Homo sapiens: one gene and its partner. The protein of the gene in region 2 interacts with the protein of the main gene of each other region in a pairwise test. Each region holds a gene or a part of one and is shown on either strand. Other genes may lie near its edges.

Region 1 (3,500 bases), on a different chromosome or scaffold from region 2:
AGAACTCAGTTACATTATTTGACTTTATGCACATAATCACAAAACAGGTATCTATCTATCACTCTTTAATGGTCAATTCCCAATACAAAAAAATAAAATTGAAATAACTACTTTTTGGCACTATTAATGTTTGTTTTTGTTTTAACCACAGAACAATAAAACCAATTCTAAGAGAAAAGGTCATTTAAACACTGAGTTTAAAAGAAACAAAGAAATCATTTTGAATAGACATTACCAGTTGTCAAAATAAATAATTACTTGGCTTCTCTCTACCGTTCCTGAAAAGGAGTCAGTATTACTGTATTCAGCCTACTTAATTTTTTTTTTTTTTTGAGACGGAGTCTCGCTCCGTCACCCAGGCTGGAGTGCAGTGGCGCAATCTCGCTCACTTCAAGCTCCGCCTCCTGGGTTCACGCCATTCTCCTGCCTCAGCCTCCCGAGTAGCTGGGACTACAGGCGCCCGGCTAATTTTTTTTTTTTTTTTTTTTGTATTTTTTAGTAGAGACGGGGTTTCACCGTGTTAGCCAGGATGGTCTCGATCTCCTGACCACGTGATCCACCCGCCTCAGCCTCCCAAAATGCTGGGATTACAGGCGTAAGCCACCGTGCCCGGCCCAGCCTACTTAATTTTTTAAAAGAGCAAAGAGGAAGTAGACTAATGAAGGTAAAACCAATGTTTTTATGACCTGACATACTAAGTTTGTCTCAACTACAAATGAAGAAGCCATAACAAAATTAGTTGCTCAATGAACAAGGAACTCAAAAATGGGGCAGGAGGTCCCTGTTACTCCTATTTATAAGGCCACTTACAAATACTCTAATTTGCCAGCTGTCACCAATACCTTTAGAGTATGATACAACTCAGTGTTTATTTTTGGCAATAATCCTGCAGGACAGAACTAATTTTTTTTTTTTTTAAGACAGTGTCTTACTCTGTCGCCCAGGCTGCAGTGCAATGGCACGAGCACAGCTCACTTGCAGCCTTGACCTCCTGGGCTCAATTGATCCACCTGCCTTAACCTCCCAAGTAGCTGGGACCACAGGCACGTACCACCACATCCAGCTAATTTTTAAATATTTTATGGAGACCAGGTCTTCCGATGTTGCCCAGGCTGGTCTCCAACTCCTGGGTTCAAGCCCACAAAAAAACCCTGCCTCCAAACCCTCAGTTTAGTTAATGAGGTCTTTAGTAGACAAACAATAGTTGAAGCCTCTTTCAAATTGGTCTGTCGCATAAAATACAAAACAGCTGAGACTGAATCTAGTTGCTCTTGTGCTAGTATACAAGTGACAAGGTTGAGATTCAGTGACAATGGCCTTCTAAAGTCACTACTTACTGATCTTTGAGATCGGTAAACTGTTTTTCAAGATTGGACATTTCATCCAAACATTCCATTCTTCTTCTTTCACAGTCTTCATCATCCATTTCTGTTAATAAAAAGGCAAATATAAAAGATAAACTTAATTTTCAAATTTATCTGAACATCTCAAATATATCTGAACGTAATTCAAATAGGAAGAAAAACTGTAATATGAAGAGAAGACCTATATTAAGCCTTAAAAGAAAATAAACAAGATTTATCAAAAATAATAATTTCTGCTGGGCGTAGTGGCTCATGCCTCTAATTCCAGCAGTTTGGAAGGCCAAGTCAGGAGGACAGATTGAGCCCAGGACTTCAAGATCAGCCTGGGCAACAGAGGAAGACCCCATCTCTACAAAATATAAAAATATTAGCTGGGCACGGTACCATGAGCCTGTAGTCTCACCTACCAGGAGGCTGAGGCAGGAGGATCGCCTGAGCCCAGGAGTTGGAGGCTGCAGTAAGCCATGATTGTGACACTGCACTCCACCCTGGGTGACAGAGTGACCTAGTCTAAAAAAAAAAAAAAAAAAAATCCACTATAGATTTAATCTAAAATACAGATGAGTATATAAAACTATACTGGTCTCTAGACCCTCTTACTTTTATTCATTTTTAAATCACTTTAAAGGACTGACTATAAGCTATAACTATAAAGTAATTAGCCCACATTTGGTTTGTTTTCCACCAACTCACCAGAATGTAGCACCAAAATGACTGTGTCCTTTAAAGGCTAACATTGCTCAAAAACATTTTTGGGATTCTTCTTTCAGAACTGCTCACATGGCTGATTTGCCTGTCACATAAAAAAAGAAAAGTGGCCGGGTGTGGTGGCTCATGCCTGTAATCCCAGCACTTTGGGAGGCTGAGGCTGGAGGATTGCTCGAGCTCAAGCGTTCAAGACCAGCCTGGGCAACATGGTGAAACCCCATCTCTAATAAAAATACAAAAATTAGCCAGACATAGTGGTGGATGCCTGTAGTCCCAACTGCTCGAGAGACCGAAGTGGGAGGATCGTTTGAACTTGATAGGCAGAGGTTGCAGTGAGCCAAGATTGCGCCAGCCTGGGCAACAGAGATCCTGTCTCAAAAATAAAAAGTGAAAGAAAGGCCAGGCATGGTGGCTCACTCCTGTAATCCCAGCACTTTGGGAGGCTGAGGCAGGCGGATCACCTGAGGTCAGGAGTTCGAGACCAGCCTGACCAACATGGAGAAAACCCATCTCTACTAAAAATACAAAATTAGCTGGGCGTGGTGGCACATGCCTGTAATCCCAGCTACCTGGGAGGTTGAGGCAGGAGAATCGCTTGAACCCAGGAGGTGGAGGTTGTGGTGAGCCAAGATCGTGCCATTGCACTCTAGCCTGGGCAACAAGAGCGAAACTCCATCTCAAAAAAAGGAAAAAAAAAGAAAAAGAAAAAGGAAAACTAATCTTATTATGTTTACCACAGGCTCTCCTGGTCTGCCATTCCTACGTTCCCTTATTCCGTCTACCCATATTACTATCAGTGAGAAAGAGGCAAATGAGGAGGAAAATACAAACTTTTTAAGGAAAGCAACTGTTAATTACCAGGTCTGTCCTATAGTCCACATTTTCTATGTTCATATCACATATATTCATTCATCAAAATAACTGAAGCACAAAATGATCTGCATCTTGATCTTCATCAAATAAAAGTCAAACTATGAGAAAGAGTTAAATCATGTTCAATTATTTTTATATAACATGGAAGGCTGACTCATTTTTTTCTCATTTTCTAAAACAGATTAAAAATACTTCTGGCTTTTGATTGCTTACTTCTTGGCTACTCAAAACTTGGTCCCTCAAGATGACTCACTATCCAAGTTCTCTGGATAGTAGAGGCTTTTCCGTAGCCTTAGAATTTGCTCAGCACCAACATTTGAGAAGAAAACACTGTGAAAGTTTAACATGAAAGACATATGGTAGAACAGAGATGCTTTAACAGAAGCAAACTGCAAAATTTATTTAAACAATTTCTTTGCACTTAAAATTTTGACTTGTAGTTCAAATTATTATCACATTCTTCAAAAATTAAGTTGTTCATTATTTTTTGGGATGGAATTTTTAAAAGTTAAAAATCACAAGAGTCAACATAAAAATTATAGGGGGAGAATTTTA
Region 2 (3,500 bases):
ACTACAGACCAATATCCCTGATGAACATAGATGCAAAAACCCTGGACAAAATACTAGCTAACTGAATCCAACAGCATATCACAAAGATAATCCACCATGATCAAGTGGGTTTCAAATGAGGGATGCAGGGATGGTTTAACATATGCAAGTCAATAAATGCAATACACCTCATAAACAGAATTAAAAACAAAAATCACATGATCATCTCAATAGACACAGAAAAATTATGTGACAAAATCCAGCATCCTTTTATGATTAAAACCCTCAGCAAAATTGGCATGGAAAGGACATACCTTAAGGTAATAAAAGCCATCTACGACAAACCCACAGCCAACATTATATTGAATGGGGAAAGCATTCTCCCTGAGAACTGGAAGAAGACAAGGATGCCCACTCTCAGCACTTCTATTCAACATAGTACTGAAAGTCCTAGCCAGAGCAATCAGACAAGAGAAAGAAATAAAGGGCATCCAAATCAGTAAAAAAGAAGTCAAACTATCTCTGTTGACTGATGACATGATCATATACCTAGAAAACTCTAAAGATTCATCCAAAAAGCTCCTAGAACTGACAAATGAATTCAGTAAAGTTTCAGGATACAAAATCAATGTACAAAAATCAGTGGCACTGCTATACACCAACAGTGACCAAGCTGAAAATCAAATAAAGACTCAACCTCTTTTACAATAGTGCAAAAAAAAAAAAAAGAAAAGAAAAAGAAATACTTAGGAATATACCTACCCAAGGATGTGAAAAACCTCTACAAGGAAAACTACAAAACGCAGCTGAAAAAAATCACAGATGACACAAACAAATGGAAACACATCCCATGCTCATGGATGGGTAGAATCAATATTGTGAAAATGACCATACTCCCAAAATCAATCTTCAAATTCAATGAAATTCCCATCAAAATACCACCATAATTCTTCACTGAATTAGAAAAAAATTCTTAGAATTCATATGGAACCAAAAAAAGAGCCTGCATAGCTAAAGCATGACTAAGCAAAAAGAACAAATCTGGAGGCATCAAATTACCAAATACCCTATACTATAATGCTATAGTCACCAAAACAGCATGGTACTGGTATAAAAATAGGCACAGAAACCAATGGAACACAATAGAGAACCCAGAAATAAACCCAAATACTTACAGCCAACTGATCTTTGACAAAGCAAACAAAAACATAAAGTCTGGAAAGAACACCCTGTTCAACAAATGGTGTTGGAATAATTGGCAAGAATAATTGGAGAAGAATGAAGCTGGATCCTTATCTCTCACTTTATACAAAAATCAACTAAAGATGGATCAAAGACTTAAATCTAAGACCTGAAACCATAAAGATTCTAGAAGATAACGTTGGAAAAACCCTTCTAGACATTGGCATAGGCAAAGACTTCATGACCAAGAACCCAAAAGCAAATGCAACAAAAACAAGGATACATAGATGGGACCTAATTAAACTAAAGAGCTTCTACACAGCAAAATAAATAATCAGTAAACACATAACCCACAGAGTGGGAGAAAATCTTCACAAACTATGCATCTGACAAAGGACTAATATCCAGGATTGATAAGGAGATCAAACAAATCAGGAAGAAAAAAACAAACAATCCCATCAAAAAGTGGGCTAAGGACATGAATGACAATTCTCAAAAGAAGATATACAAATGGCCAACAAACACATGAAAAAATGCTCAACGTCACTAATGATCAGGGAAATGCAAATCAAAACCACAATGCAATACCACCTTACTCCTGCAAGACTGGCCATAATCAAAAAAATAATAGATGTTGGTATGGTTGTGGTGAAAAGGTAACACTTTTACCCTGCTGGTGGGAATGTAAACTAGTATAACCACTAAGGAAAACAATGTGGAGATTCCTTAAAGAACTCAAGGTAGATCTACCATTTGATCCAGCAATCTAACTACTAGGTATTTACCCAGAGGAAAAGAAGTCATTATATGAAAAAGATACTTGCACATGCATGTTTATAGCAGCACAATTTGCAATTGCAAAAATATAGAACCAGCCCAAATGCCTATCAATCAATGAGTGGATAAAGAAAATGTGGCATATATATACGTATATATATATATATATATATATATACGTATATATATACATATATAAATATATATACGTATATATATATGTATATATATATGAATACTACACAGCCATAGAAAGAAACAAAATAATGGCATTTGCAGCAACCTGGATGGAATTAAAGACCATTATTCTAAGTGAAGTAACTCAGGAATGGAAAACGAAACATCATTTTGTTATTGCTCCTACTTACGTTCTCACTCATAAGTAGGAGCTAAGCTATTAGGCTTCAAAGGCATAAGAATGATGTTGGGGGACTCAGGGGAAAGGGTTGGGGGTGGTGAAGGATAAAATACTACAAATTGGGTACAGTGTAAACTGTTCAGGTGATGGGTGCATCAAAATCTCAGAAATCACCAGTAAAGAACTTATTTATGTAACCAACCACCACCACCTGTTCCCCTGCCAAAAGAAGAAGGGACAAAGCAGAGAATGCTTTGGTTGGCACTGGATGACCCCAAGCCTAGAGGAGAATACTTGGGAAGTACCAAGAACAACAATTTTCTTATTTACTGAATGTGATTCTGATGCAGATTCCAGCAGTACAAAGACAGCTGCAAAATGTAAGTATAGGTTGCCTTTAAATAGAAAGCATGACCAGTTGTCATATACTTAGCGAAGCAAAAGGCAGCAGCCTCTGAGAAGGAAAGACCCCATCACTGCATGACCCGCAGTCATGCAAACACAGCTCAGACAGTCGGAGGTGGGCTGATGCTAAGCACTTAGAAGCCCCTAGGCACCCTCTAGAGCAGATGAATGAGTGCTAACCTCATTTATATTAGAATGAAGCCAGAGAAAACACCATCAATACCTTTGCTATTTCCAGACTATTTCTGGCTTCCTCTGCATTTAGTGTTTGTAGATTAGCTTTCTTTATTGGTTTACATCTGTATTCTAACTTGTATTAGAATAAGACCTCCCTCCTTAAAGCTGGAGTTTGAAGTGGGGAATATGTATGTCTTACAATTGCCTCTGAATGGGAGAGACTGGGAGCCTTGAATTCTGTCCCTTACCAAGCATGGGGAAAGAGGAACATAGAACAGTAGATGCTGGCAGAGAAAGAAGTTAAAGGACTAACTCCCTATATAATCCCAAATATGATGTGGCACGGTGGGGGAATGAGGAGTTGGCTGAGGACTAAGAAATGACCCTGGGAGTTTAAGTGGCAAAAGATCTTGGGGTGGTATATCTCAAGGAAATGAAATGGAAGTTCTCAGGCAGTGACCTTACCTCAATCATGTATGCTAGGTAGACGAGGGAATAGAGTGGGGAAAAGATATCGGCCAACTGTCATGGAGGAAGTGATAGAAACAGGCTGAATATTTGGAGGTGGGAGAAAAAACCTAAAATGGGAGATAAAAGAACGTCTCAAGTACTGATGAATAAG

Evidence for each region. Proteins that work in one complex are often made in the same cells at the same time.
Region 1: the proteins of DEUP1 (region 2) and BRMS1L interact in binary tests that used the Homo sapiens proteins (3 or more experiments, as listed by UniProt).

Annotation. Positions count from the first base shown.
Region 1 is NC_000014.9:35,829,338-35,832,837, reverse strand, and holds part of BRMS1L (breast cancer metastasis-suppressor 1-like protein), read right to left. Parts: intron 3,044-3,500; exon of another isoform or gene 2,931-3,043; intron 2,158-2,930; exon of another isoform or gene 2,058-2,157; intron 1,429-2,057; coding exon 1,338-1,428; intron 1-1,337. UniProt on the Homo sapiens protein: Involved in the histone deacetylase (HDAC1)-dependent transcriptional repression activity. When overexpressed in lung cancer cell line that lacks p53/TP53 expression, inhibits cell growth.
Region 2 is NC_000011.10:93,372,242-93,375,741, reverse strand, and holds part of DEUP1 (deuterosome assembly protein 1), read right to left. Parts: intron 1-3,500. UniProt on the Homo sapiens protein: Key structural component of the deuterosome, a structure that promotes de novo centriole amplification in multiciliated cells.